4 linked regions of the Homo sapiens genome follow. The protein of the gene in region 1 interacts with the protein of each later gene in a pairwise test. Each region holds a gene or a part of one and is shown in the gene's direction. Other genes may lie near its edges. The genes, in order: BEND7, TRIM26, FAM133A and TLK1.

The links.
Region 2: the proteins of BEND7 (region 1) and TRIM26 interact in binary tests that used the Homo sapiens proteins (3 or more experiments, as listed by UniProt).
Region 3: the proteins of BEND7 (region 1) and FAM133A interact in binary tests that used the Homo sapiens proteins (3 or more experiments, as listed by UniProt).
Region 4: the proteins of BEND7 (region 1) and TLK1 interact in binary tests that used the Homo sapiens proteins (3 or more experiments, as listed by UniProt).

The regions. Positions count from the first base shown.
Region 1 is NC_000010.11:13,525,732-13,533,694, reverse strand, and holds the start of BEND7 (BEN domain-containing protein 7), read left to right. Parts: upstream 1-4,680; 5' UTR 4,681-5,161; coding exon 5,162-5,222; intron 5,223-5,512; exon of another isoform or gene 5,513-5,870; intron 5,871-5,891; exon of another isoform or gene 5,892-6,263; intron 6,264-7,473; coding exon 7,474-7,557; intron 7,558-7,963.
Region 2 is NC_000006.12:30,188,987-30,196,418, reverse strand, and holds part of TRIM26 (tripartite motif-containing protein 26), read left to right. Parts: intron 1-6,383; coding exon 6,384-6,406; intron 6,407-6,885; coding exon 6,886-7,001; intron 7,002-7,219; coding exon 7,220-7,252; intron 7,253-7,432.
Region 3 is NC_000023.11:93,704,949-93,712,380, forward strand, and holds the end of FAM133A (protein FAM133A), read left to right. Parts: intron 1-497; exon of another isoform or gene 498-3,326; intron 3,327-4,368; 5' UTR 4,369-4,471; coding exon 4,472-5,218; 3' UTR 5,219-7,317; downstream 7,318-7,432.
Region 4 is NC_000002.12:171,003,852-171,011,283, reverse strand, and holds part of TLK1 (serine/threonine-protein kinase tousled-like 1), read left to right. Parts: intron 1-4,220; coding exon 4,221-4,312; intron 4,313-4,394; coding exon 4,395-4,484; intron 4,485-4,640; coding exon 4,641-4,810; intron 4,811-5,001; coding exon 5,002-5,137; intron 5,138-7,432. UniProt on the Homo sapiens protein: Rapidly and transiently inhibited by phosphorylation following the generation of DNA double-stranded breaks during S-phase. This is cell cycle checkpoint and ATM-pathway dependent and appears to regulate processes involved in chromatin assembly.

The DNA.
Region 1 (7,963 bases):
TTCATGCATCATATTTAAGAGTCAGGAAACAGCAGACCATTCTAATTTCACTAAAAAATGGTCTTCAGAATGGATTTTTCTCATTTGCAAAATTGGAATATTAATATATACCAATCTCATAGAACTATTAAGAGTTAGATAATGCATACCTATGCTTGAGCTGTAAAAGAAGCCCCATATAAAATATAAGGTAATATTATTTGTGGAACATTCCAACTCTCATTTTCACTTATGAAATATCTTATAAATACTGCCTCCTTTCTCTTAAATTACAATCACCAAAACCAATGAAGTAAACGGGTGTAGAAACTGCATTAGGCCAGCAACACTTGGGAAACGGCAGCTAAAAGGAGGGCATCTATTCCTTCCATGACCGTCTGATGGGTGATTGTCCTAATGTTGAAAAGTGGATATTTATACATATTAAATCTTCCTGAAGGATTCCCAGAATCTATTTAATGACAGGATATTCAATTCCAGAAAATCCAATCAAAGATTATAAAAAGCCTGAAGCCCAATAATTCCATTCTGCTCATCTTCTTTCTGAGGTGTATTAATAAAACAGTTAAACAGTAATCAAGTTGTAGACATACTACATCTACGTACATAGCATGGTTCAAATCATACATTCCTTCTAAATCTGAGCTGCCCAGTATGGTCACCTGTAACTACATGTGACTATGGACAATTTGAAATTTGGCTAGTTTGAATTGATTTGTAATCTAAGGGTAAGATGCATACCAATTTCAAAACTTTGTATAACAAAAAGCATATAAACTATCTCAATAATAATATTCTCATATTATGTGTCAAAATGATAATATTTTAATGTATTCAGTTAAATAAGATAAATTATTAAAATGAATTTCATCTGTTTATTTTTACTTTTTTCAGTGTGGCTAATAGGACATTTTAAATTACATACATAGCTTGCATTGTATTTCTATTCGACAGCAGAGCTCTAAATAAAGATGAAACTTTTCATAATGCTATTCCTCTCAGGACAGTTTTCAGGAAGAGCATTTCAAGTATTAGCGGTAAGGTTACTTCAGGTTTTCTGGCCAAATTATCTGGCTTTGTCAAAGATTGAAACCAACATGTAATCTTTATAATCAAGTGGGTTTAAGCATGGCCATATAATAAAATGTTTGCCCTGCGTGATGTCATTGAATATTTGACCAATTATCTCTGATCTCCAGTAACACATAAACCTGTGGTTCTGGAACTTTAGGGGGCCTTTAAGAATGAGGCAAAGAGTGCTAGCTTCGGCAGCACATATACTAAAATTGGAAAGAATGGGGTAAAGAAATGACTTCAGTAGATCCCCTAGAAAACTTTCCAGGACCCCTCAATACAGACATTATATTTGAGTGAAAACAAGATGGCTACAGACTGATTTGTGTCCCCCACAAACTCATATGTTGAATCCCTGACTCCTAACGTGACTGTATCTGGAGATTGAACCTTTAATAGAAGGTAATTAAGGTTAAAAGAGATCATAAAGGCGGAGCCCTAATTTGATAAGATTGGTGGCCTTACAAGAAGAGGGAGAGAAAGACAGCTCTCTTCCTATGCCATGTAAGTGTAGTGGTGTGCAAGCTAAGAAAAGGGCCCTCGCCAGAAACTGACCCTGCCAGACCTAGATCTGAAACTTGCAGCCTTTAGAATGGTAAGAAAATAAGCTGCTGTTAAGTCACCCAGTATGTGGTATTTGTTAAGATAGCCCGAACAGGCTAATACAGTAGTCCCCCTTTATCCATGATTTCAGTTACCTGCAGTCACCTATGGCCTGCAAATATTGAATGGAAACTTCCAGAAATAAACAATGCATCAATTTAAAATTGTGCCCCATTTTGAGTGGCATGATGAAATCTTTAGCCAACCTGCTCCTTCCGGCCCAGAATAGGAATCATTCTTTAGCCTAGCGTATTCACATTGTCTGCACTATCTGCTCGTTAGTCACTTGTTGGCTTGGTTATTAGAAAACATAAAACAATAAAAAACACGGTATATATGGGGTTTGATGGTAACATAGTATATACGGGGTTCGGTACTATCCTCAGGTTCAGACATCCACTGAAGGTCTTGGACATACTCCCCAAGGATAAGGATCAGCTACTATATGGATACCTGCTACTTAAAGCAATCTCACTTTATGTTTTATTTTATATTTTAATTTTTTGGTAGAGACCGGGTCTCAGGATGTTATCCAGGTTGGTCTTGAATTTCTGGCCTTAAGCAATCCTTCTGTATCCCAAAATGTTGGGATTACAGGTGTGAGCCACTACACCTGGCCCCAAGCAACCTCATTTTAATTAAACATTATTATTAATTTTAATACTAAATGTGATATATACATTTTTGTTAGATAAGAGCATAGTGATTTGCACAAAATGCAGAGTAAACAGACATTTATTTTCTCTAAAAGCTAATAAGACAAGCGTAGCCTGTGTCCTCTGCAGGCCAACTCACTCATAGACCAACTTTGGAAAGCCAGGTTAAAAAGGGTCAAGGAGAAATGACTACTATTTAAAAATATTCTTACTCAAATATTTTATTCTTAACTATATCAAAAATATTCTCTTCAGTAAATGGAATTTGCATTCCCACTTGAACTGAAAATGCTAAGTTGTTAATACCTTCTCCAGGGATTTACTTCTTGGGATGACACCTTCACTGGGTTCGTCATAGTTTAAGCATAATAAAATCTCATTATATGCTCCAAAGCATGAACGATCCGGGAAGTTCCTCAGTCAGTGTAGAACTTAGCCTTACGGCTTTGAGAATAACATTTTAAAAGGCATTACATAAAGAAAGAATGGATCCCAGCCTGGGGAACAAAATTGCATGCTTTGTTTCTTTAAAAACATCCAAAACAGCCGGACGTGGTGGTTCACGCCTGTAATCCCAGCACTTTGGGAGGCCTAGGCGGGCTGATCACTTGAGGTCAGGAGTTTGAAACCAGCCTGGCCAACATGGCGAAACCCCATCTCTACTAAAATACAAAAAATTAGCTGGGCGTGGTGGCCCATGCCTGTAATCCTAGCTACTTGGGAGGCTGAGGCAGGAAAATCGCTTGAACCCGGGAGGTGGAGGTTGCAGTAAGCTGAGATCGCACCACTGCACTCCATCCTGGGCGACAGAATGAGACTCTGTCTCAAAAAATAAAAAATAAAAAAAAATCCAAAACATCTTCAGATTTTAATGCCTGATTTTAAAGAAAGGGGTGGCAGGGAAGGAAGAAACCCAAATAGGGTAGTTGCTTTAATCACTGTTACCACTAATTTTCTGAGAGCAGCAAAGCGCGTCTAAGAACTCCAATAAATCTATACTAAATTTTATATGTCCCATACATATTTTCTGGGAAAAAGGGCCCTTGAGCTTTGAACACAATCTCAAAGGAAACAGTGACTAAAAAAGGTTAAGAACCTCTTGTTGAAGGGTTTGCTTTATTGAACGGAAGAAACAGTTCTCCCTCTCCCCTCCACGCTAGGTATAACCAGCCTTCCGGATGTGCCGCCTTTGGTATCACCCAAGATCTCGGGATGGGTACCCATCCCTGCCTCCACTGCCTGGTTTGCTGGTTACCCTGCTCTTTGGTTCTGTTTCTCCATGTGTGTTTCTGCAAGCTGCCTCAATGTCCCCCTTCCTCGGCAGTTGTCCTACTCTGTGTCCCTGAAATAAGAGCGGTTCCTCAGCGGCTGCCTCATTTGGGTGAGACCCACGTGACACTCATCACATTTGTCAACCTCCCCTTTTTCCTCTCTACTCTTTTGGGGCCACTGGCCTTTGTCCCGTGCCGGAGAGGTAGCCCCCCCATCCCCCGACTCTTTACCCTCTTCCTGGTTGGGTTTGGCAGATACTTTCACGCATGTCCCGTCATGTTCCTGTCCTACCATTCCCAGGTAGTGTGAAATTCTTTTCCTGGCCCACTCGAAAGATGTGAGAAAGAAATGGTGCCTGAAGTGCGCTCTCTGATCCCCCGAAAAGAATATTACACATAACTACTAAGCGCTTTGTGTTTGGGTCCATGATTCCGACATATGACGTGGAGAAGCATAGTGCCCTGCACCTGCCTTGACCATGGCCTCCTGAGAGTCCCCAGGGCCACCAAGCCCCCCATTCCAAGTGCTCTCCTTGAATGTGACTCGGCTCTTTCCACAATCCGCCCAGCCTGGGTTAGGGAATGGGAGCTCTCTACTATATTCTTCTCCACAATATTCTAAAACCTCCTCTCTGTCCTTCTAGAGAGAGCGCAAATGGGTAAGTTTTTTCCCCCTAAAACTTGCTTAAAATCAGCGCGTCGGGCCCCGGGGCGCCCGGGATGTGAGGGCGGGGAGGTGGTTGTCGGGGCGGTCCGCGCCCCCACGGCGAGGTGCACGGAGTTAGCTCGGCCCAGCAAGCGGCGGAGGGAGGCCAGCGAGCGGGGTCTGCGAGCGGAGGCCCGGGCGGCGGCGTCGTCCCCGGGGGCAGGCAGGCCGGCCGGGCCCGGGCCAGGGCGCTGCGCCGCGGCCTCCGCGCCTCCTCGGGGCGCCGCGCGGCCAGGCCGGCGGCGGCCCCCGGGGATGGCGGCGGCCGGGCTCCGCCAGCAGGTGGCCCTGGGGTCCCAGCGGCACCGCCCCCTCCGCCGGCGCCCCTCCTCCCGCGGGGGCGGTCAGCGCCCCGGCCGGCTCTGCACCCGCCGCCGCCCTCCCCGCAGCCCGCCCGCCGCGTCTTCGGGGCCGCCGCCGCCGCCGCCGCGACCGCAGGCTGAGCCCAGGCGGGCCGGCCGCCCCGAGCCGCCCCCCGCCTCCGCCGCCGCCGCCGCGCCCCGGCCCGGCCCGCTCCCAACGGAAAGTTGGGCTGCGGCGGGCGGCGTCTGGAACCCGCGGGCCGGCATGAGCGGGGGCCGCGGGGGCGCCTAGGGCACCGGGAGGCGGCGCCGCGCGGGGGCAACTTCGCCCGGGAGCCCACGCCGCCGGGCCCCGCGCCTGCAGCCCCGAGCCGGCTCGCGGTGGTTCCTCCCGTCCCGCGGCCTCCCCTCGCCGACTCCAGGCGCGGACCTTGGTCCCGGCGGCTCCGCCGCGGTGACACGAGCCCGCGCCGCCGCTGCCGCTGCCGCCGCTGCCGCTGCCGCCGCTGCCGCCGCCTCCTCAGCCCCCGCCGCCGCCTTCCCCGCACCATGGAGTTCTCCGAGAGGAAAAGAAGCAGGAAATCCCAGAGCTTCAAACTGGTGAGCCGAGGTAAGCGGCCGCCGGGGCGGCGGGGGCAGGCAGCGGGCGCCGCGCCCTCGGCCGCCCGCGGGGGTCCACGCTGGGGGGCGCGCCCTCCCGGAGCCCCCGGTCCTTCCCGGTCCCCCGGTGCCTCCGCCGGGCTGGCAGGCAGGGCCGCGGCCGCACACGCCGGGCGGCGGGGAAAGTTGTGCGGGGGGAGCAGGGATGTTATTTAACGTAAACAAGTCGGAGGGCAGCTCAGGAAATTAGCAAACAATGACACCGGGGGGCCCGAGCCCTCCTCGGGGCGCCTCCGGGGCAGGGCTGGGGCGGCCGCGGACCTGCCTGGCCATCAGGCCGAGCGTGGACCCTCGGACCTGAGATTTGCTGTTTTTGTTTTCTGGGGTCTTCCCCCTTCCCCCCGCCAAGAGAAGGAGGAAAAAGGATGACCGTTGTTGTTCTTTTTAAGAAGGAGAAAGAAGCTCACGCCGTGTCCAAGCCCAAGGCGGAATTGTTGACATCCAACATCTCTAGCTAGCTGATTTGGGTTGGAAAGGTGTTTTAGACTAGATCATATAGCAGTCAGATAAGCATCCTTTAAAAAAAAGAAAAAAGAAAAGAAAGAAAAGAAATCCATCTAGTTTCTGACGAATTAACAGGTGTACACCACACTCTAGGGTTTGTATTTTGTCAGGGAGGGGAAAGTGGAATACAGTCTTGTCTGTGTTCAGTTACTTGTTAAGAGTCTTTATCTTCCTGATTTGACTTTTTTTTTTAAAAAAATGATAACTCAAGAGCCATCGTGAAAATATATCTCAAAATGCATTGTCATCTTTAATTAGGGGCAGGTGACTTTTTTCATTGTAATGTCACAAGTCCTCATATTGAGTTTAGACCCGCTCTGTTTAAATGTCGTCTTTTAATCAAGTTGAGGTCAAAGCCAAACCCCAACCTGTCCACTTTTCCTCTGTCGTTTTCTCTAGCATTGGCATCAGGGTAGAAACTCCAACAACCTGCAGAAGTCACGTGTAAACTGATGAAAATTAGTGAAAAAATCGTGGACAATTGCAAGTAATCGAATTTTTCAAACTGAGCTAAGCTAGCTAAGATGTGGATTTGGTTCATCTGAAAATGCTTTGATTATAGGCATTTTGAAGATCCATTCTTATCTGCCTCCCCTAATTTAGTTTGGATACTGTTTAATGAAAGAGGCCTGAAATAGTTTCACGCATTCAAAATACTTGGCTCTTCCCACTTTCTGAGTAAATTTTTTTTTCCACATCCGTGTTGATTACTCAGTTACTTGGACTTTTAAAAGTCTCTGTCTGGGTGATTGCCCTGTTGGTGCTATCTGATTCATTCAGGAATGTAAGCTGCTTTCTTATTGATGACCTCAGAGAACTTAACTGCTTTATCTTAAAAGTGAGAGTAGTTTTGTTGACTTTGTCCTGTGAGGTCTAAGGCCAGAGAAAGGGGACTAGGTGTTAAGGAGGAACCTCTATTTTCATGCCTTAGTGACCCTGCTTTTCAAAAATAGAAGCAAAAATGCAGTAGCCTCCATAGAGAAGCTTGTAAAATACTGTATTTGAAACTTTGACTGACGTAGCAAGTTTTTCCTTTTTCCTTTTTTCTTTTTCTTTTAATTATAGGTCTGATTCTTCTCTTTCTCTGCAGGTGCAGTTTTAGAAAATAAACTTGCATATTAAATAAAGTGCAGTAGCTGAATGCGAAAGAGTCACTTGTGTGAAAGATGAAAATCTTGCTTTCTTATCCAAATCATACTACATTTGAAATAACAAATCAGTATTTTTCATGTGTGCTTGCCTTTAAGCTGCTTAAAGGCTGAGATTTTCTGGGTAAACTGAGAAAACTAGAGTGCTGGCTAAACTTTAAAGCATACTGTTGATATGCTGGTGAAAATGGGTTGTGAAGAGAAATTTGGAAACCTCCCCTGCTCTATGATTGGGCAAACATACTTGCCACCTCAAAGAAAAAAAGCCTAAAAATTGGCATCTGTGGGTACAATTTACCGTGAACATGGTGTGATCAAGCAAAGCTGTCTTCTAAAGCCAAAGTAATCTTTCAAGTTTGCGTACTCCAGAATAAGCAAAGTTTTAGGAATTATTATTGACTACAAATTCTGTGATTATTTCAGTTCTCAAAAAGTTTATTTATAAATTATAGAGTATACAAACTAAATAGAATGAGATTCTAGACTTGACTGCTTATTCCTATCTTGAGGTCCTTAGGATTCTAATTTTTGGTTGTTTTCTCATGCCAGATTATCACCACGAGGTGTATAAGATCCCAGAATTCAGCAACGATGTTAATGGGGAGGCCAAAGAGACACAGCCCATTTTTTTAGGTAGGTTCCTATGTCAATTAATACCTCAGCAAAACATCGTGACCATTTGCAATTAGGGGGAAAAAAGGAAATTGTTCAGGAACGGGAAATGTCTGCCATTGCTTAATGTATGACATTCTTTTCAAGACCTTTTATTTTACAGATTGCCAATATATCCCTTATTAACATTGCTAAAAGTTGTAATTTCAGACATAAATGTTTATTAGTGTCTACACACAGTGCTAATTATCACTCACTCACAGAGCCAGATGCTGACTGTGCAGTTTTGTGGCTCTGCGCTCACCCCATTTACATTGCATATTCGTTGGCATGCTTCACTGGCAATAGTTTGTGTAATTGGGGTATTACATCTTTGACATCTGGATAACAGAAATTCAATTTCCAGGAAGCTGCTATTTGTTTGGTT
Region 2 (7,432 bases), on another chromosome or scaffold:
TTTGTCATCTGAAACATGGAGATGATAATCCTTACTGCTGCCAATTAGTCTGTAGATTGCATGAGCATAAAATGAAATAACTGGCATGCTGTCACTTCAAAAAATAAACTTTTTACACAAAACTGTTCAAAAAACTAAATGGTATAGTAGAAAATGGAAGGGAAGATTATTAATATCATTTACCATCCTCCATCCTCATCACTGCCATCACAAGCCCTCTTAACAAGTCATTGGCAGACACTTAGCAGCTGGTGGAAGCTTTTTATGGTGTTGTGGTTGGGGGTGGCTGAGGGAGGGCTGACCAGCAGCTCCTCTCAAAGACCCAGAGGATCTGGAAGAGATAGGGTAACTGGGGAAGGGAGACAGAGATGGCCAGGTTTTCTTTGGCCCATGGGATTACCACACAGAGAACAAGATGGAAAGCAGACAAGGGGGCCTCGGGGCACCTCCTAGAGGAGGGGGCTTTGATAGTGAGAAAGGGAGGGTTTGGGGCTGAAGAACTGGCTGTGAAGCTGAAATGGCACCACATCTCCTCCCCCCCGGGAGCCTCTGGGGATCACACTTACCCTGAAGAGGGCCCAGTCCCCTTTGGAGGGGTAGAGGGCTCAACCTTCCTGCTCTCATAGGCTGGGAGGGGAGGGGCTCTCTGATGGTATTCCCCCACTTGCACTGTTTAGGGTGGCTGGGTCTGTCTGTCAGCAGCAGAGCCACCCAGGATCTCTAGGAAGGTGGAGTCCCAGGCTAATGGCAGGGCAATAGCTAGGAGGGAGAGATAGCAAGGCAGACTCTGCAGTATGTGCACTGGGACAGACTGCAGAAGGAGGCGGCCACCTGCTCCTCATTGTTGTGAATTCAGATGTACAGAATGAGGACTGGCAGGGATTTTAGACCTTCCAGTTCAGCCCCTACTGATGAAGTCACTGAGGTCCAGAGAGTGGGAGGAGTTTGTCCCAGGCCATGGGGTGGGTGTCAGGTCACAGCTTGAGCCCAGATGTCCTGACTCCTGGGCTCTGAGCTCTTGTTCTTATTTTGTCCAGAATGTCTCTCTGGCCCCCTCTTTTCCTCCAGATGTCATTCTGTTCTCTCAGATTTCTCTCGTCATACTCTTTGACTGGGTCATTTTCTGCATCTCCTTTTGCCCGTTTCTCTTCTCCTTCCTCTCCTCACGCCCCTGCCATGTGTGAATGCCTACTGTGTGGAACAGAGGCACACAGCTGAGGATGTGGTGGGGCTGAAATCCATTGTGTTTGCCCGGAGGGGTGCCTTTTCCTAATGCACCCAGAGAAGTGGCCCTCAGAGCAGAAGCCTGGCCCTCAATGACTCAGAGCACTCAGATTGCAGCTCTCCCTGGGGTGGGATAAGGTCAAGGGAAGGGAGAGAAAATGGTGTCAGCTTGAAACTAGTATAGGAAATGTTATTGGTACTGGTAGGTTTCTTTTTTTGTTTTGTGTTTTCTCTTTTAATTTTAGTGCTATATAATGTATATATTTATGGGATGTAGAGGTTTTTGTTTGTTTATTTTTGAGACAGAGTCTCGCTCTGTCTCCCAGGCTGGAGTGCAGTGGCGTGATCTCAGCTCACTGTAATCTCCGCCTCCTGGGTTGAAGCAATTCTCCTGCCTCTGCAACCTCTGTCTCCTGGGTTCAAGCGATTCTCCTGCCTCAGCCTCCCAAATAGCTGGGATTACAGGCGCACATCACCACACCTGGCTATTTTCTGTATTTTTGGTAGAGTCAGGGTTTCACCATGTTGGCCAGGCTGGTCTTGAACTCCTGACCTCAGGTGATCGCCTGCCTCAGCCTCCCACAGTGCTGGGATTACAGGCGTGAGCCACTGTGCCTGGCCTAGAGTGATACTTTGATACAAGTATATAATATATAATAATCAACTCAGAGTAATTAGTATATCTGTCACCTCAAACACTTATCATTTCTTTGTGTTGGAACATTCAAAATCCTCTCTTCTAGCTTTTTGAAAATGTATAGTAAATTATAGTTAATTATATTCTCCCTGCAATGCTGCACAACACTAGAATTTATTCTTCCCATGTAGCTATAACTTTGTATCTGTTAACCAACTTCTCCCCACCCTCCTCTCCCCAGCCCCCTTCCCAACCTCTAATCATTACTATTCTACTGTCTTACTTCCATGAACTCAAATTTATTATGGATGAATAGTACTCCATTGTGTATATATGCTACATTTTCTTTATCTATCTGTTGATGGATGCTTAGATTGAGTCCACATCTCAACTATTGTGAATAGTGCCACAATAAACATGAGTGTGCAGGTATCCCTTTGATATACTGATTTTCTTTTCTTTGGATAAATACCTAGTAATGAGATTGCTGGATCATATGGTAGTTCTATTTTTAGTTTTTTGAGAAACTCTCATACTGTTTTCCGTAACGGCTATACTTATATGTAGAAAAACCTAAAGGCCCCACCAAAAAACCCTTAGAACTAATAAACAAATTCAGTAAAGTTGCAGGATACAAAATCAACATAAAAAGTCTACTGCATTTTTAATACACCAATAACAAACTAGCTAAAAAAGACATCAAGAAAGCAACCCCATTTACAATAGCTACAAAAGTAAAATAAAATACCTGGGAATGAAGTTAACCAAGGAGGTGAAAGACCTCTTTAATGAAAACTACAAAACACTGATGAAAGAAATTGAAGAGGACACAAACAAATGGAAAAATATTCCATGCTTGTGGATTAGAATTAATATTGTTAAAATGACTGTCCTACCCAAAGCAGTCTACAGATTTAATACAATCCCTGTTATCAAAATACGAATGACATTCTTCAGAAAAATAGAAAAAAAACTAAAATTCATATGGAGTCACAAAAAACCCCAAATGGCCAAAGCAATCCTAAGCAAAAAGAACAAAACTGGAGGCCTCACACTATCTTACTTCAAAATATACTACAGCCAGTTGTGGTGGCTCACACCTGTAATCCCAGCACTTTGTGAGGCCGAGACAGGCGGATCACGAGGTCAGGAGTTTGAGACCAGCCTGACCAACATGGTGAAACCCCATCTCTACTAAAAATACAAAAATTAGCTGGGCGTGATGGTGCGCACCTATAATCCCAGCTACTCGGGAGGCTGAGGCAGGAGAATCACTTGAATCCAGGAGGCAGAGGTTGCAGTGAGCCGAGATTGTGCCACTGCATTCCAGCCTGGGCAATAGAGTGAGACTCCATTAAAAAAAAAAAAAAAAAAATATATATATATATATATATACACACACACACACACACACACACACATATATGTATATATATATACACATATATATGTATATAGATACATATATATGTATATATACATATATATATATATACTACAAAGCTGTAGTAACCAAAACAGCATGTATTGATATAAAAGCAGACACATAGACCAATGGAACAGAGTAGAGAACTCAGAAATAAATTCACATATTTACAGCCAACTGATTTTCAACAAAGGAACCAAGAACATACAATGGGGAAGGGACAGTCTCTTTAATAAATGGTGCTAGGAAAACTGGGTAACCAACCATACGCAGAAAAATGGTATTGGTAGATTTTGTCTGTGTGCTTATTTGAGTTTGATTGTACTGCGTGGGAACTGGACAGCTACCTCCCTAATTAGCATTAATATTTTCCCAGAGATTATTTGGCTGTCAAAGTATAGTAAGAAAAAGACCTAAAATAGGGTCCAGAAGTCTGATAGAGAAATACAGGTGAGGCTGGTGTGGTGATTCACACCTATAATTCCAGCACTTTGGGAGGCTGAGGCAGGCAGATTGCTTGAACCCAGGAGTTTGAGACCAGCCTGGGCAACATAGTGAGATCCTGTCTCAAAAAAATTAAAATAAAATAGAAATACAGGTGAGAGGGAGAAGCAGCAGGACAAAATGTGTAAAATAGAAGAGACCTTTTGATAGAGGTGATAGGAAAGGAAAGACAAACCTATGGGCTGGGAGCATCAAGAAGACATTAAAGGGATTGGGGTGACAGGAGAGGCCCAGAGAGACACTGCATCCTGCCCTGGTAACCCGGGCAGGCCCTGCAGGATCAGGTGGCATGCTTGTACCCTGCTTCTCCTGCTGTACACCCCCGTGAAGAACTTTCTTGATGCTCTCTCTTAGTAACCGGGCACATCCCCTCCGGGAGCTTGCCATGACTCATTGCCGCAGCCCCACTGCTCGGCTCTGCCTGTTTCATGACAGCTTCAGATGTCTTGGGTGAGAAGAGTCCTCCAGGAGACTTGGGCGGATCACTTCCCTCCAGAGGCCCTGTATGTGGCTGTGGATGGGGGCTCCTGAGTCTTTCAGCCTCTTCTCCTCAGGGCCAGCCCTGCCCTGGCTCTCGGGACCCACCCTCTCTGGGCTGCTCACAACCTTTAACCTTTAGAGGACTCTTCTTTCTCCTGTATGATTCTCTCCCTTTCTACTGTTCTAGGAACTTCCATGTCAGGAAATATGCCCAAATGGGCCTCTGGCCCACACTCCAGCTACTGCTCCATTCATTTGCTCTTTTATGCCACCTTTGTCAGCAGAGCTGTCAGGACACACTGTCTGTTTTGTTGCCTGTCCTCTGAAGCCGCCTTGGACTTACATGTTTTGAGGGGCATGTTAGAGGACTTGGCCAGAAATGTGCTACCAGTCTCTGGGCACTTGCTTCATAGCGGGGGGTTGGGATGTGCCTCTGACTTCTTGTCTTATTCCTCTGGAGTAAAGCTCACAACTCTTCCCAAACTTTTGGAAGCAGTCATCAGCAGCCACAATTTGTTAATTCCATTTGTTTCCCAAATCTCACCCTCTCCAGGAAGCCAGCCTGCACCCCACCGGCCCCTGCTCCCATCCCCCTTCACTCTGCTCTCTTTTCCCGTGGTGCGTATCACTCACGTAGTATGATGTATTTGCTACATTGATTATTGTCTGCTTCCCCCTGCTAGAATGTCAGCTCTACAGAAGTAGGGATTTGTCTCTCTCTCTCTTTTTTTTTTTTTTTTTTTAACTGTTCTGAGGCTTCTAGATGAGTGCCTGGTACCTAGGAAGCACTTAATAAATATTTGTGGAATGAGTGAAAGGAAGGCAAAAATCAATTAATACAGGGTATTAAGGAGGCTTTTGACTCACAAAAGGGAATCTGAGCATGTCAGAATAGCCCTCTTCCCACTCACCCTGCCCTACCACCTGTCTGTCACAGAGATAGCACCACCATTCTCCCCCCTGTACAAACCATGCTCTGTTCTTGTTTATCCTTGACCAGTATGTCCAGTTGAATCTGTCTCTAAAATACCTGGAATGTATTGCTTCTCTCTTTTTCTCCCTACTGCCACCACCTTAGTTCAGGCCATCTTTAGCTCTCCCCTGGTCCACGGCAAAAGCCTCCGGACCAACCTCCCCATGTTCCTCTTGCCTCCTTAGTCCCTTCTCTGTGGGGCAGCCAAGTGAGTGGTCACTTAGGGTTTTGGCTCACTGCTGTACAGTGACGCAAACAGAATAGAAGTTTATTTCTGCCTCAGTTAACAGTTCAGAGGTGCAGGGTCTAGAGCTATCACAGTAGCTGTACATAAGCTTATCCAAGGGACTGGGTTACTTCCATGTGGTTCTTCCACCAGCTTCTAGGGATGTTGTCCTCTGCTGCGTGGTCAAAGTTGGGCTCACCACCACCATGTCCAAAATTCAGTTGGGGTAAAAAGGAAGTAGAAAGCAATTTTCTTTTTTTAAAGGACAATGCCCAGAATTATGGTCATTGCTTTCTATCACATTCCATTGGCTGGAACTTAGTCTCATGACCAGACCTTGTCGTAGGGGATCTGGAAAATGTAGTCTTCCCAGGTGGCCGCCTGACCAGCAATAACTCCGGGGGTTCTATTATTAAAAGGAGGAAGGGGAGAGTGGACTCTGGAGGTTACACAGCAGTCTCAGCCACATGTAGAGCGGATCACACATATCATGCCCCTACTTGAAACCCTTGGTGGGTTTCCACTGTACGTGGAGCAAAAGTGAAACTCCTTACCATGCATATCCAGCCCTGCGCAGTCTGGCCTCTGCCGTTCTCACCAAGCCCTTTCCTGTTTTACCTTACCTCTCTTCATCCGGCCAGTACTTCTTATCCGTCAATTCTCTGCGCAGGTATCTCCCAGAGAGGTTGCCCATGTCATCTCCCAGCCATTGTGGCTTCTGTCATTGTGCCGATTTTGTTTGTTTTCTTGTTGTTTTATGCAGTGACCCCACTGGAATGTCAGCTCCATAAAAAAGGGACCACATTTGTTTTGTTCACTGATATGTCCCATCTCTGCTACAGTGTTGGGTGCAGATGCATTGAAGTCTTATTTGATTCATATTGATACTTGTGCTTTTTTCTTTCCCTTCTAGGACACGAGAGACTTCCTAAACAGGTAAAAGAGTCTCCTCTCCATGGCGTACCTCATCCCCCTTGTTTATGTTCCCCCGCTTCTGACCAGGTGCATTTGAATTCATGGGGAGTGGTATGGTGCCAGAGGTACTCACATCCCATGGTTCATCCTGATGCCCTTCTGAGGAGCAGGACACATCATTGAGAACTGGAGACTTGCTCTCCTCCTTATGGTTCTCTGTGTAGCCCCAGCTCCTTGGCCCACTGGCCTTATTTGAGGTGGGACAGAGCAGAGAGGTTAGAAACATGGCTTAGTAGACAGAGCGCCCTGGATGTGGAGTCTACTGATGTTCTGAAGCCCTGGTTCAGCTGGTGTCTTTGGGCCACTGTTTTTCTGTCACTTGTTTGGGGATAATCATACCTTTCCTCTCCCCTTCATAATTGCCATGAGGATTGAGAGATAAGTATGAAGGAAAGTAAGAAGAGCTGAGTAACAGCTTGTTATGTATGTCATCTTCTTAGGTATCCACGGAAGAAGTTCTGGGTTGGGAAACCCATTGCTCGAGTGGTTAAAAAAAAGACCGGAGAATTCTCAGATAAACTCCTCTCTCTGCAACGAGGCCTGAGGGAATTCCAGGGTAAGGGTTGGGGAGCGCACAAAGGGTGGGAGTCAGAGCAGGGCTACCTCGTAGAAAGAGCGCACCCAGCTCCTTTCCATCACCTTGTCGATCCTCACTCTTCTGAGGGCCTCTTGTCTTAGACATGGATCCCTATCAGGAAATTGATACTGCCCGAGCAAGAAATGGGCTCATAAATTTTCGGGACTTGAGTCATTGCTGTCCTTTTTTCTCCCCAGGGAAGCTGCTGAGAGACTTGGAATATAAGACAGGTGAGTGTCTAGAGGGTGTTTCCCAGATGTACATCAAATATAGAAAACTCCGCCTGCAGAGATTCTGACTGCTCACTTTTCCCCCAGGTAGCCCCTTTTGCAACAGGAAGAATTTCCCAGCTGCACAATAGAAGCCCCCCTCCCTCTTTGCACTTTCTAATCAGCCTACTCTTTAGTCTG
Region 3 (7,432 bases), on another chromosome or scaffold:
TTATACCACAGGTCTCAGATGATATGTCAGTGTCTCAGATGATATGTCAGTATCTCAGACTTGACCTTCCCTTCTGAATTAGGTCTCTGTTTCTTTCATAGCATCCTGTACTTTTCCTTCATCTCCCCAGTCATGATTATGATTATATACTCATTTGTTTCATATTTGTGTAATAACTATTACCTTTACTAAACTGTAATATCCATTGCATAGTATCTTGGCACATAATAGATTATCAAAAGGGAATTGTAAGAATCAATGAACAAATATTATTATAATATCCAGATTACTAGCATGATTGTCACAATTTATATCTAACCTTTACAGGATTTTAGCATATTTCATGAAAATAAGTAGATGTACAGAAAATCAAGTTACTCTTTGTTCTATAATAGAAACAGAGAAGATAAGCCACAGTGCTTTTAAAACAGAGTATTTGAGCAAGAGACTTTGTTGGTGTTACTTTTTCTCTTTTCTCAATTTGATTTATCTTCTAGGAAAGGATCATACAGATTCTTCAGTTCAGAAGAACTCCAGCAACACTTACATGGTGACAACACCCTCTCCCATTCTCTGTTGTTACTCCAAATTTTAATTACTGGTCTCAAAACTCCTGTCTTAATCTTAGCAGACAACCTTGGCACTTACCACTGAATGAAAATGAAGGCTATTATGTGAGAAATACTTCATCTTTCTCCCTTTTACCTCCTACCACCCTACAAAAAATCCTGCATCCATTCCCTGTCTTTATTCTTTGCCTCTGCTCTTGGGGGAAGAAATTCTTTCTATCTCTGAATTTAATTTCATTCCTTTCTGTTTTCTCTGTGATATTGCCACATTAGTTATTTCTTCTCTTACCTAGGTTTTTAAAACATGTTTTCTTTGTACTTTATCCTTCTAGATGCCCTATGAATATGCTCAAGTTTCTTTCATGTAAAAAAAAACACAAAAGAATTTTAACTCTGCATCTTTCATGGTTGCCTTCTTATCTCTTTACTTTCCGTATTGACTGTGACTATGTACTCTAGGTCTCTACATTCTCACCTTCAATTCAGTCTTTTAACCCACTGTCACCTGGCTTGTGCCTTCACCACTTAGCTGAGATTGCATTAGCAAAGGTTACTAATGACTTCTTGATAGCTAAGTATAATGGACATTTTCAGATCTGAACTTGACTGATCTTCTGCATTTAATACTGTTGTCTGTAACAAATCTTTTCTATTTTTATGAATTTTTCAAAGGTAAGGATAATACTTGTTTTTTGTAGAAAATTTAAACATTACAGAGTCATAAGGATTCTTATGCTCACCTTGAAACTTTATTCACCCTGTGTTTCTTGACTCTTTCTTTTCTGATACTGGTCCAGCTCTTACTACTCTGGCTAATTTCTTAATGCATACTTTGTAGGTTTTTCATTCACTGCCAACCCCTTGCATGTTGGTGTTCAGTTGGATCCAGTCTCAAACTTTTTTCCACTTGAAATTTCCCTGCAAAATAATTTAGTTTTCTCTCATGACCCTAGCTATCACTCAGCGACTGCCAGTTCAGTATTTCTAACTCAGATCACTTTCCAAAGTGCCAAATCCCATACATCCTCTTTCTTACATGGATAATTGTCCATAAATCTCATAGGCACTTCAAACTTCAGGAGTCCAAAATGGAAACTAGAACCTTTTCTCGAAGTCTGTGCCATTTTCTCTATTACCTAGTCATTGTCATTGCCTTTGGTCTAATGTGTCGAGCCAGAGCCTTACCCCAGATTTCTTTCTCTTTTTCATCCTTTGTATCCAATTTGTCACTAATTTCAATAGAATCTTCTCAACATGTCTCATATATTTCTCATTCTTTTCATTCACAGTGTTGCTGTTTGAGTTCAGACTCTTTCATTTCTTGTCTACATGAATTTTTAAGTGGTCCCATTGCCTTCTGTCTTAACCTGACTTCAATCCGTCTGTCACTGGGCAAATAATTGTCCTTAAACACTCAAATATGACCATATCATTTTTCTGCTTAAAATAGTGTCTCCCCGTTAGCTTCACTGTAAATCCCACAGGAGAGATTCCAACCACCTTAGCATACCACCCAAAGCCTTTGTTAACTGGCCTTCGCCTATCTTTCTAGCTGATGTCAGGACTAGGTCTCAAGGGACTGAAATTAGAATGGATTATTCTATTGTAAGTGTCAAGTAACAGAAAGAAGCTGCAAGTTGAATATGAACTGAAGTATTTAAGAGTTTTGAATGGTCAAATCAGAGACACAATGATATTTGAGACGTGGTTAGGGTAAGAGTAAGAATGAAAATTACAGAAAGACCTAAAAGGGCTGCCTATAAATAAAGAGGAAGGAGAATAAGATCAAGAACACAGAAAATAAGATGTTGGAAACTATCACCAAGAGTCACTGAAATGTCTATAGCATTGAGCTTATGATGGGTAGGTATGTTAGGTTGACTTAAAGGATCAGATTTAAGATGGAGATTGATAGAAAAATCTATTATATGTCTGATCGTCTTTCTCTTCTATATAAAAGACTTTATTGGCTCTTGTATCAACTATAGGACAAAATTCAAGATTTTCAAATGACCTAAGAGGGCCTCCATATTTAGGCTTCTTTTTATCTCTGCAAACTTACCTCCTTCCCCCTGCCCTCTTGATCTTTAGGTTCCATCAACTCTAAATACCTGCTGCTCTTTTCTCATGTTTCCTCTGCCAAGATTGTCCTTAATTTCCTCATTTTCTGGGTAAATGCCTGTTCATTCCTTAAGACCCTATACAGACATCACCATCTCCAGGACACTCCCTCTGAATCCTCCTTTCTCTCAGAGTTACCCATCCATCCATCCATGCATTTATTTATTTGTTTATTATTGAGAAAATATTTATTGAGTGCTTAATATGGATCAGATTCTATGTCAGGTAATGGGAACACCGTGGTGAATAAGATAGGCCACACATGACCTTTACCCTTCTTGGTCTTACATTTAGCAGTGGATACACATGTATAACGCAATAATCACAAATAAAATAATTACCAATTTCATAAATGCTACAAATAAAATAAACGATGAACTATCATACAGAAAAATGAGGATGAGGGGTAGACAGAGAGGCAAACCACTTTAGTATAAGGTTGAGCCATAAAAAGTTGTTGATCTTTAAACTGTTTGTGTCCCATAAAATAGTTTTACATAGTTTAACCTAATGGTTGACTTTCTGAGGAATTGACATTTAAGCTGAAACCTGAAGGATGAGGTGGAATTGGCCATGCTGGCTAAGCCTATAATTCGGCATGTTCCAGGAACCAAATGAAAAGAATTGAGAAAAAAGGTGAGTGAAACAAAACAAAAGTAAGAGACAGAAGTAGGGCAGATCATATAGGACCTTATAGGAGATTGGATTTGTTTTTCATTAAAATATAAAACCACTGGAGTTTTTTAAGATCCCTCTGTTTACAGTGTGGGACTAGAATAAAAGGGAGTAAGGTTGGAAAAATGCTACCTATTAAGAGGTTGATGTAAGGAGACAATTTGGTGTTGCCTTATTTGTGCAGCTTGGAATCAGGCTGCCTTTGTTTAAATCCTGGATATGCCATTTATTAGCCATGTTACTTCATGTTCAAATTTTGAGTTTTACTCTAATTCTCTAAGCCTCAGTTTATCTATCTGTGAAATAGAGACAATGATAGGATCAACTTCATAGGTCTGGCCTTGAGATTGAATGAGATAATCCATTGCAAACACTAAGCAGTCCTTGACAGAGAATAAACACTTACTAGGTACTAGAGATTAATAGCCCAAGCGAGAGATGATAGTGGCCTGGGCTAAGTTGATGACAGTATATTTGGAGACAAGTGAATGGATATGAGGCCTATTGTGGAGGTTTAAATATCAGGATTTAGTAATGTATTGGATTTGACCGTTGAGGGAGAAGGATTTCTCAGTTATGACTCCTGGGCTTCTGTCAAAAGGAATGGAGAGGGTTGTGTTGCACTTTCTTGAGTTGGCGAAGGTCTGTCTGGTACAGATTTTAGTTTTATAAATTTCTCTCTATATACTATATAAAGCAGGAATGAAAGAAAGGAAAAAGTTAAGTATCATACAATGTAAGAGAAAATGGCTATTAAATATTTTAGGTATCTGTCAGAATCTTACATGAGGTATATAAAACACTTTTAGTTTATATTATGTTTATACCACAGTGTCTATAATATGTAAAATTTTAAAATGTGTATATTGTTTGTTCCCATGGTATAAGATTTTGGAAATTTCTACTGTACTGTGTGATAGGCAGTGTTAACAATTAAGCTTATATGTTTGTTTGTCTTTATATTAAAGGTGATTTGTAATCATTCCATCTGCTTCTCTTACAGAATGGAGCTTGCTTGATATTTCACTAGATAAAGAATTTAAGGCGAGTATCTATCTTTGTTCTCCTTGGCAACTGAGAGTCTGCCCTTGGAAACATCAGGCACCATGGGGAAGCGGGATAATCGGGTAGCCTATATGAATCCTATAGCAATGGCCAGATGGAGAGGCCCAACTCAATCTGTGGGCCCAACAATCCAAGATTATCTAAATCGACCAAGACCCACCTGGGAAGAAGTAAAGAAACAATTAGAAAATAAAAAAACAGGTTCAAAAGCATTAGCTGAATTTGAAGAAAAAATGAATGAAAATTGGAAGAAAGAACTTGAAAAAAGCAGAGAGAAATTATTAAGTGGAAATGAGAGCTCATCTAAAAAAAGAGAAAGAAAGAAAAAGAGAAAGAAGAAATCTTGTCGGTCTTCATCTTCTTCATCAAGCTCTGATTCTTCAAGCAGTTCTTCAGATTCTGAGGATGAGGAAAAGAAACAAGGAAAAAGGAGAAAGAAAAAGAAGAACCGTTCATACAAATCATCCCAAAGCTCTACGCATGAATCAGAATCAGAGAGCAAGGAGTCTGTAAAAAAGAAAAAGAAGTCAAAGGATGAAACAGAGAAAGAAAAGGATGTAAGAAGCCTCAGCAAAAAAAGAAAGAAAAGTTACCCTGATGATAAACCTTTATCATCTGAGTCCTCATCTGAATCAGATTATGAAGAGGATGTGCAAGCAAAAAAGAAGAGAAGGTGTGAAGAGCGAGAACAAGCAAAGGAAAAAGTAAAGAAGAAGAAGAAGAAACAGCACAAGAAACATAGTAAGAAGAAGAAAAAGAAGTCTGGATCAAGTCACAAGTCAAGGTAACATCAAGAAAAAAAGCAAGAATGAGTTTGCCGAGTTCCCCTGTGTTAGTAGAATTATTTCTGGACTTTGAGTTGCCTATCAAATCCCACTGTGCCAGTAAGGGGCATAGTGGCTGCTGGCAACTTCAATATACATTTTTGTTTGTTTGCTTGTCCTTCCTTCTAATGGTTAATTCCTCTGAGAGCTAAAATTCTGTTGTCATACCAGTGAATAAAATGTTTGAAATTAAAGTAAAATGTGTTAGATAATGAATAACTTTGACAAAAAAAAGTGTATCTAAGGTTAAATGTATCTAATTCGAATACATCTTTGAAATATCACCATCAATGAAACATAAATGTAATTTCCAGACAATTGTAGTTGGTATTTTTGATGCAAGGACTTAATATTGATGTCTCAAATTCCTTGCTTTTGTAAATAAGTTTAGTTCATTTTCCTTTTTTCTTTAATGAATCTTTGTTTACATGGGGAAAGAGCATGTGGGGTGGGAAGGGCAAGTGTTTGCTAATCACTGTGGCTAGCTGAATAGTGTGCCTTTGACTCTTACACATCCTATTTTTGCCAGAGCAGCAGCCGTCCTTTTCTTACTTTATGAAATTCTGGGGTGTTGTATGCTGCTTCAAGTGAACAAGAAGGACAGGAGTTTACAGCATAAGTAAGCCCCCATATCTATGAAATTTACCTCTTCTTCAGCACTGTTTACTATACAGTACTGAATAATATTTAGTATTACAATATTACATGATTTGAAATAACTTTATACCCATTTTGTATGGGAACCATTCTAAACAGACCCTGATGTTGTTTGATTAAGAAATATTCTGAAATTTTTTTTGCATGTTTTATACTGTTAAGTTTTAATTATCTGACCATATTCTATATAACTGATGATCCTTTTTTAAGATATGATTTATGCTTAGGATATAAGTTTCAAGTTTTTAGTTTCTTAGCCTTGCTATATTAATTTCATTACTGTGTTTAATTGCACCCTTGCCAAAATATTTAGCATGTGAAAAGGTTTTTTTTAAAAAATATGTAATGCCTTCATATTGAAGCTGGTTACTGTACGCAAGTTGAGTGCCAGACCTCTAGTACGCCGTATGTTACATGAAACTACTGCCAAAATCTTAGTAAGATTGTTGTTGAAAAGATTGTTGTCTTAAGCATTAATATTGAATTTATATAGAAGTTAAATGTAGATGATAATGACATCATTGATCTTCCTGTGTCCGTATTTTCCTACAATTTGGTGCCTTGTATCTGTTGCTGATTCACTTTTACCACTAGTGTAAAAATAAGTGAAAAAATATTTTTACTTTACATTTTTATATATCAGAGTAACATAAATTATAAATTTGTGTCTCAAAACCACCTGTGATGGAGGATGTGCTAATTGTAATGTCATAGGTACAAAGTATTTTGGCATGATGAAAAGCTCAATAGCTATTGTTTTTCAATAGCAGATTTTATCTCGGCTACCTTCAATCACAAGTAAAATTATAAAGATAAAAAACATCTACATAAACATGTTGGCTGCCAAATTTTTTGCATTGGAAATACTGGAATCTCTCATTAAAGTTCTTGGAACATTATAGTGATGCCATGTTAGATTACCTTGGAGCTTCATAACTTTAGCTTTTTCCTAAAAATATATGTTTATGCTGATAAAAACTATTACATTTATGGGATATTTTGTATCCATATAGAGTTTTTCAGAATTGTTCATTAAAATGCTTTTTATAAGCTTATATTATTTGTAGAATATGGCAAAAGCATTTACAGCTCATCATGTATCTATCTGCTCCTGTTCACTTCCAAACCTCTTGTAGTTAGGCAATGCCATTTGACTACTTCAAGCAGAGGGATTGTAAACAGAAGTGATTTTCTATTTCCATGTTGGACTGTAAAAAGTTCTGCATGACCCTCCAGTTTTCTTTTGCCTGTCATGGTGACCTGAAAGCAAGATGTTCCAAATGGCATACTTACAAGACGGATGCAACCTGGGTCCTTAGGTCGCTGTTTAGAAGGGACCTGACTGGAGTGCTGATGGACTTGCAGTAAACTTTTTAAGTGTAAGAAATAAACTGTTATGTGTTAAACCACTGTGATTTGGGGTCTTTTTATTACTGCGGAATCACCTAACCTAATCTGACCAATAACATAGAACTCTAGAACATCTATTTCATTATTTACATAAAATAACTCACCTTCTTC
Region 4 (7,432 bases), on another chromosome or scaffold:
GGTGGCTCACACATGTAACCCCAGGGCTTTGGGAGATGGGAGGGTGCCTGAGGCCAGGAGTTTGAGACCAACCTGGGCAACATAGTGAGACCTTGTCTCTACTTAAAAAAAAGTCAGCCAGGTGTGGTGGCGCACACATGTAGCCCCAGCTACTCAGGAGGCTGAGGTGGGAGTATTGCAGAGTCCAGGAATTCATGGTTGCAATAAGCTATGATTGCACCACTGCACTCTAGTATGGGTGACAGAGCAAGACCCTGTCTCAAAAACAAAAAAAAGAAGTACTTGTCTTTTGTTTATTGATTATATGTCCTCATTATAAAAAAGGGTTTGTTGTGGCTTCTGTTGTCTTATTTCCAGAATCCAAAGACTGTCCTTGCCACCTGCACAGTCCCTGTGATATTTGATACCTAGTCACCATTAACCAGTCCAATACAAAGAGTAACAGCTATTTAAATCAAGATAGGCAGGTAGCCATTTAATACAGTACACTTATAGAAAGATTGTACCCCTTAATTAAAAAATGTCTGAAGTATTAACATGTCCTGAATTTATCCAAATTTCTACCTATGTCAAGTCCGTTTCTCAAATGCATATGTATAAATGTAGCATTTTTACTCCCCATGTTCACTATTTTATGCCTTTCTTTTTTTTTTTTTTTGTACTTTATGTTGTATCTTTTAGCCTAACCTTTAAATATTGGATTCCTAAGGTCCCTTTTATCATTCTGTATTCTCCCTTAAGAAGGTTTTTATCCTCTCTCATTCACTGGGTTATCTATTTGGTGTCACCCCCAGGTAATATCTAGCTCACACTTTCTTCCTGAGTTCAATACCTCAAAGTATGTTTGTATACATGACTTACCTCATGTGGGTGCTTCATAGGTACTGGAAACTCACATTTGAAATAGAAGTTATCTTCCTCTCCTCTAAAATGTCTTTTAACACTGCTTCTGACTTCCCTGACCTCAGTATATAACATTGCCATTCATCTGCCTGGTCCCTCAAGTGAAAAAACACAAAAACCATCGTATGCTCTTCCTTTCCCTTTGTTCCCCTCCCCTCACATATTATAAGCCCCTAGTTCCTGCTATTATTAATGTCATTAAGTTCTCCTAAATTCAGCCATGACCCTTCCCTTCTGTCTCTTAGCTCAAGGCTTCTTCCGGAACCTCATAGCTGATTGTCTTCTTTTGGGCATTGCTTTTCTCAAGTCATTTTGTACACTGCAACTAGAGTGAACTTTTTATAAAAGGCAGCCTGATCATCTGTCCTACTTGAAAGCCCCAGTAGCTTCCCATTTGCTCTTGGGATGAAGTCCTAGTGAAGGGTTATATGCTCATCTTTAGTTCCTCTAAACAGCTTCCCTGACCCTCTGCATCTTCTCTGATAGATTTGGTGTGCCTTTTTATAAGCTCCTTTGTGCTTCATTACGTACTGGCATAGTTGGTTAAAAGCTTTGGTTCTGAAGCCAGACAGCTAGGTTTAAATCCTGACTGCTATTTACTAATTTTATTAATTTGGGCTTCTTATTTAAATCCCTGTCTGACTCATTGGCTCCTTCTGAGAATAATAACAATACCTACATTATAGGGTTGTTGCAGTGATTAACTGAGTTATCACATGTAAATCATATAGAACATAGGTGCTGAGATAAGCTGATAAGATTATTAGAAATCCTGCTTGTTGGCCATGGCTCACACCTGTAATCCTAGCACTTGGTGGGGCCAAGGCAGGCAGATTGCCTGAACTCAGGAGTTCAAGACCAGTCTGGGCAACATGGCGAACCCGTTTCTACTAAAAATACAAGAAAAAAATTAGCTAGGCATGATGGCACATGCCTGTAGTTCCAGCTACTCGGAGGCTGAGGCATGATAATCGCTTGAACCTTGGTGGTGGGAGGTTGCAGTGAGCCAAGATTGTGCTACTGCACTCCACCCTGGGGGACAGAGGGAGACATTTTCTCTCAAAAAAAAAAAAAAAAAAAAAAAAAAAAGGAAAAGAAATCCTGACTGTTGCATGGGACAAAGACTACACCCTTCTCGTTTCTGCTTCTGACTTGGAAAAATTATGGGATTTGAGTTAAGAGAACTTCAGTTCTGGTATCAGTTCAACCATGCACTATTTTTTGTTAACTTAGATAAGCATTACACGTCAGGGTCCTCACCTTCCTCATTCATCAAAAGTGATCTTTGGGCTCTCTTCCAATTCCTGTTTCTCTGATTCTAATAATAGTTTATCCTTAAGCACTTAATGGGTGAAGTAGGCTTACCATAAGGTAGAAAAGATTATCATGATAGTTCAGCTGGGATCTAAAAGTCACTAAAAGTGCAGTTAGCATTAGCGTGGCCTAAAAGTTGTTGAGCTTATGAACTTACCATGAGCCTTCATAACAACCCTCTGCTACTGCCTGGTTGTATTTTAAATAACTATTTTACCCTCATAGGTGAGGACTTTTGTAGAAGAGGCTTACATAGAGATTAGAAAGTGCAGATTGGGGCCCAGTGACTTGAACTTTCTATACTGACCTAAATACTAGTGACATCATTCTCTAAGCCCTTTAAAGCCCTTTCATGATTGCCAGTTCTGTTGGGAAACAACTAGACAAAAAGCAGATTGTAAGTCAAGAAGTAAAGAGTTGTATTTTATACCAGGATGGGAGATGTTGAGTCAGTTGCTGAGTGATTGCCATATTAACCTTATGGAAAGGTATACTTCTACTCACCTGAAATTTTGGGAGGAAGATGTGTTACATATAATTTATTATAATCAGTATACTCTGATAATAACTTTTTATTGCTTGCTTAGTTTTTTCTTCAATTATCCTTTACTATGATTGCCTTGAATTCTTTATAGATTTGTTCCGCCTTGTCCCTTATATAAACTTACTTTATTTTTATTCTTCTCAGTTTCTTTACACTTAACCCTTAATAATAATATGTAATTAGCTAATGTTTCTTGGCCGTACCATGTATTATTCTAAACACCTCATATGTTTTACCCCCATTTAATCCTCTCAATAACCCTAACTTTTGGGGCTCAGAGAGGGTATTAGCACAGAGTCACTCAGCTAATAAGCTAATCTGATTGCAAACAGAATATTCTTAACAACTGTGTGCTATATTATATCTGATCTCATACTTTTATAGTTTTGTACCAAAGTAGTCACTTTACTGCTTATCCCTTCCTGCTTATTTTTAGGTTAAATTGATGGGAGGAAATGGGGACCTTCTTTCTAATAAATACGTAAGCTTTTAAGTGAAAGGGGCACCTTTGTGTGTAAATCACAATGGAACCAAAATTATTAAATGTCTCTTTAATGGTATTCATTGCTTTTTAAAAAAACATAAGTCATGTAAAGCTGTTAAAATACTGATCATTCTGTGTTTTTAATTTAAGAAATAGGCTGGTGATTTGAACAAATCAAGTATAAATTCTTTTTGAGACAACCAGGGAAAATTGAAGACAGGTTAGGTATTAGATGAGATGAAGGAATTATTACTGATGTAGTTAGGTGTGATAATGGTATGTGGTTATTTTTATTTAAATACTGATGTGTTTACTGGGAGAAATAATGTATTTGTTTTAATAATACTCTGGTTGGGAAGGGTGGGATGCAAGGGTACTAGGGAATAGATGAAACAAGAATGGCAACATATTGGTAATTTTTGAAACTGGATGGTAGGGGCATAAGGGCACATTATAGTAGTCTACTTGTGTATATGTTTGAACAGTTTTATAATAACGAGTTTTTTTCAACAGTTGGAAAAATAACTGTTAGGAACTTTTTAATTTTTCTAAAAAGTGAGAAAGAAATAGGGGGTTGCTAGGAAAAGATAGATTTAAAAGGTTTTATCCAACCTACAAAAAAAGTGGTACAGTCATCTGTTTTCCTGGCTGCTTACTACTAGTATAGAGGAATAAGTCCATATTAAAAACAAATAATAGCTTTATTGTTTTATTTTTATTCAGTATATTGGCATTTATAAAATTTAATGTGAAAATTCACATTAAGGTTTTCTCTGATTTATTACCATGGAATTTCTGTCTTCTGATAATAAAAGTGTCATTGAGCTATATATAGTCTTAGCAGAGAAGATCATTAATAATTGTAGGGTTTGTCCTAATTCCATATTATTGCAAAAATTATCACCAAAATAAAAAACATCTCTTCAGCTATTCAATTGGTCTTTCATCTTAATTGTTTTTGACTTGAAATCCTAGGCTTTTGACCTTTATGAACAAAGATATGCTGCTGTGAAGATACATCAGCTTAATAAAAGCTGGAGAGATGAGAAGAAAGAAAACTACCACAAGTAAATACTAATACTTTATGGTTTTTTAAAATTGAATATTTTTTGAATGATCATGGAGAATTAATACACTGTCTTCTCATAGACATGCCTGCAGAGAGTATAGAATACACAAAGAACTGGATCACCCCAGAATAGTTAAACTCTATGATTATTTCTCCTTGGATACAGATACGTAAGTGAATATTAAGGTTCAATTTTTAAGGAAAGATATGCTTGCTTTCTCTTTCCCCATCCTGTGTTGATGATATAAATACTCTCCATTTCCCCATTGTGATTCTGAATTCTTGGATATTACTTATGTCTAATTTTTTTCTCTTCTCTGTTGTAGGTTTTGTACAGTGTTAGAATACTGTGAAGGCAATGACTTGGATTTCTATCTGAAGCAACACAAGTTAATGTCAGAGAAAGAAGCTCGGTCTATTGTAATGCAGATTGTAAATGCACTAAGATATCTCAATGAGATCAAACCCCCTATTATACATTATGATCTTAAGCCAGGTAATTATGAAATTTGTCTAATTTTTTTTAAACTTGAGTATAGTTTTTAAAAGTCATTCATTAAGTTATCTGAAAACATGTTTTTTGGTTTCTCTTGTAAGACATCAGTAAAATACTAGTAAAATTAAAAGTTATTAAAGTTATGTTTTTCATGTATGTATCATTAAAAGAATCTTATATTTTATTCTTAGGAAACATCCTACTGGTAGATGGAACAGCATGTGGTGAAATCAAAATCACTGATTTTGGTCTGTCCAAGATTATGGATGATGATAGCTATGGTGTAGATGGAATGGATCTAACTTCCCAGGGGGCAGGCACTTACTGGTAAGTGTATTACTAAAAACATCAGAATGTCTAGATTGGTGCCCAGTGCTTTTATAATAATTTAGTGTTTTTTTTTTTATTTCCATGTAGCCATTAAGATTACTGTGGTAAAGGTACTGATATTAAGCTCTCAGTTGAGAGGGAGACTTCTGTGGTCATTCCTCTTTTCTCATCTGTTCTTAACTGCAAATAACAGCATACTGGAGAGAGAATGACCTGGCATTAACAAGTGACTTCAGTACCTGCCAGTCAGAAACTCCTAACAGGAAGAATTCATTCATGGGTTTTCTTCTACAATGTTAGCGTGATGTTCATCATAAATATAAATACTTATGTTAATATAATATTTTAACTATTGCAAGCAAAAACTGCAAGCATCAAGCCCTCTCTGTGGAGGTTATATGGTTGCAGGAATTTTCATTTTATTTTGAGACAGGGTCTTGCCCTGTGCAGTGGTGTAATCTTAGTTCATTGCAGCCTCAAACTCCTAGGCTCAAGCGATCTGCCCACTTACTCTTGAGTAACTGAGACCACAGGTACGCACCACTATGCCCAGCTAATCTAAACTTTTTGTAGAGACCAGGTCTTAATTTGTTGCCCAGGCTGGTCTTGAACTCCTGGTATCAAGTGATCTGCCTCTCCCAAAGTGCTTGGATTACAGGCGTGAGCCACTGCACCTGGCTGGTGGTTTTTGTGGAAGATGGATGTTTTGTTGGCTGTGAATGGGAGATAAATTTGGCATATTCTTTGGACTTGACTTTCAGAAATCCCTTTTAAAGACTTGATATGTCTAGATTTAAATTTAGATATAATCACAGATTCATAGATATAAATCTAAATGACTGTCATCCCCTCAGTATACCTACGTGTTCACAAAAACTACTTCAGTGTGAATTTTCAAACTTGTTAAATTCACCAAAGTGGAGAACATAAACTATAAAATTTCAAAACAAACTTAGTTCTCAGAGAAAATTAGTTTAGCATAAAGAGTGACATTTTAATGGAAGAAAGATAACTGCGTTCAACTTCATTGAAACAGGATTGTGACTACAAACATAAATGTGACTTCAGGTTTTCCAGAACAGTATTCACACAAACTGAGCACATCATAACCACTTACACACGATGCCACTGTCTGTATAGATTTCACTTTTAATGAGCAGGGATTAGTCATATTCATGTATTCTTTTAAAGCCACTTTCAAATTTTAAATTTGGCTTGTGGCATTTCCTAGGAACATGGATAAGATAATAATGTCATGAATTTTTTCTTCATATTTTAAGAAAACTATTCAAACTGGTAACCCCCTGAAAGTCAATATTCTCAAAGTCTTTGGACTTTTTTCTTTTAGCAACAAGGCTCATTTTTTTTTTTAACAACAAAATCTTATTCTAATAAAACCAACAAAAACAAAGCATCTTGGTAGAATCTTAGATTCCATGGAAGATAGCTTGAAAACCATGTTCTAAACAATAAATTATTCTTCGTCTGCAGGACATTCTCATTATTTGTTTCTCTCTCACTCTGGCTTCACTAGTATAGGGAAGGACAAGGAAATTTCCCTTTTACAGATGTTCGAGGGACAAAGAGCTTATGTTTCAGGGGCTGTACTGGAAGGAGATACAATAATGGCATTGTTCTATAGGAACATGGAATGTATTTCTCATGGAAATCTGTGGTCCAAAAATTGGTTTATGTCTACAGTCATATTAGTTGTTTAGCTATGTACAGCTGACCTTGAATAATATAGGTTTGAAATGCATGGGTCCACTTTTATGTGGCTTTTTTTTTTCCGATAAATACATTGGAAAATTTTTTGGAGATTTGCAACAATTTGAAAAATCTCACTGACGAACCATGTAGCCTAGAAATATTGAAAAAATTGGCTGGACACGGTGGCTCACGCCTGTAATCCAAGCATTCTGAGAGGCTGAGGCGGGCGGATCACTTGAGGTCAGGAGTTCGAGACCAGCCTGGCCAACGTGGTGAAACCTCGTCTCTGCTAAAAATACTAAAAGTACAAAAGTTAGCTGGGCATGGTGGCCATGCCTGGAATCCCAGCTACTTGGGAGGCTGAGGCAGGGGAATTGTTTGAATCCAGGAGGCAGAGGTTGCAGTGAGCTGAGATCATACCACTGCACTCCTGCCTGGGCGACAGAGCAAGACTCCGTCTCGAAAAAAAAAATACTGAAAAAATTAAGAAAAAGGTATGTCACGAAGGCGTGAAATATATGTAGATACTTGTCTGTTTTACCATTTACTGCCATAAAATGTACACAAATCTATTACAAGAAG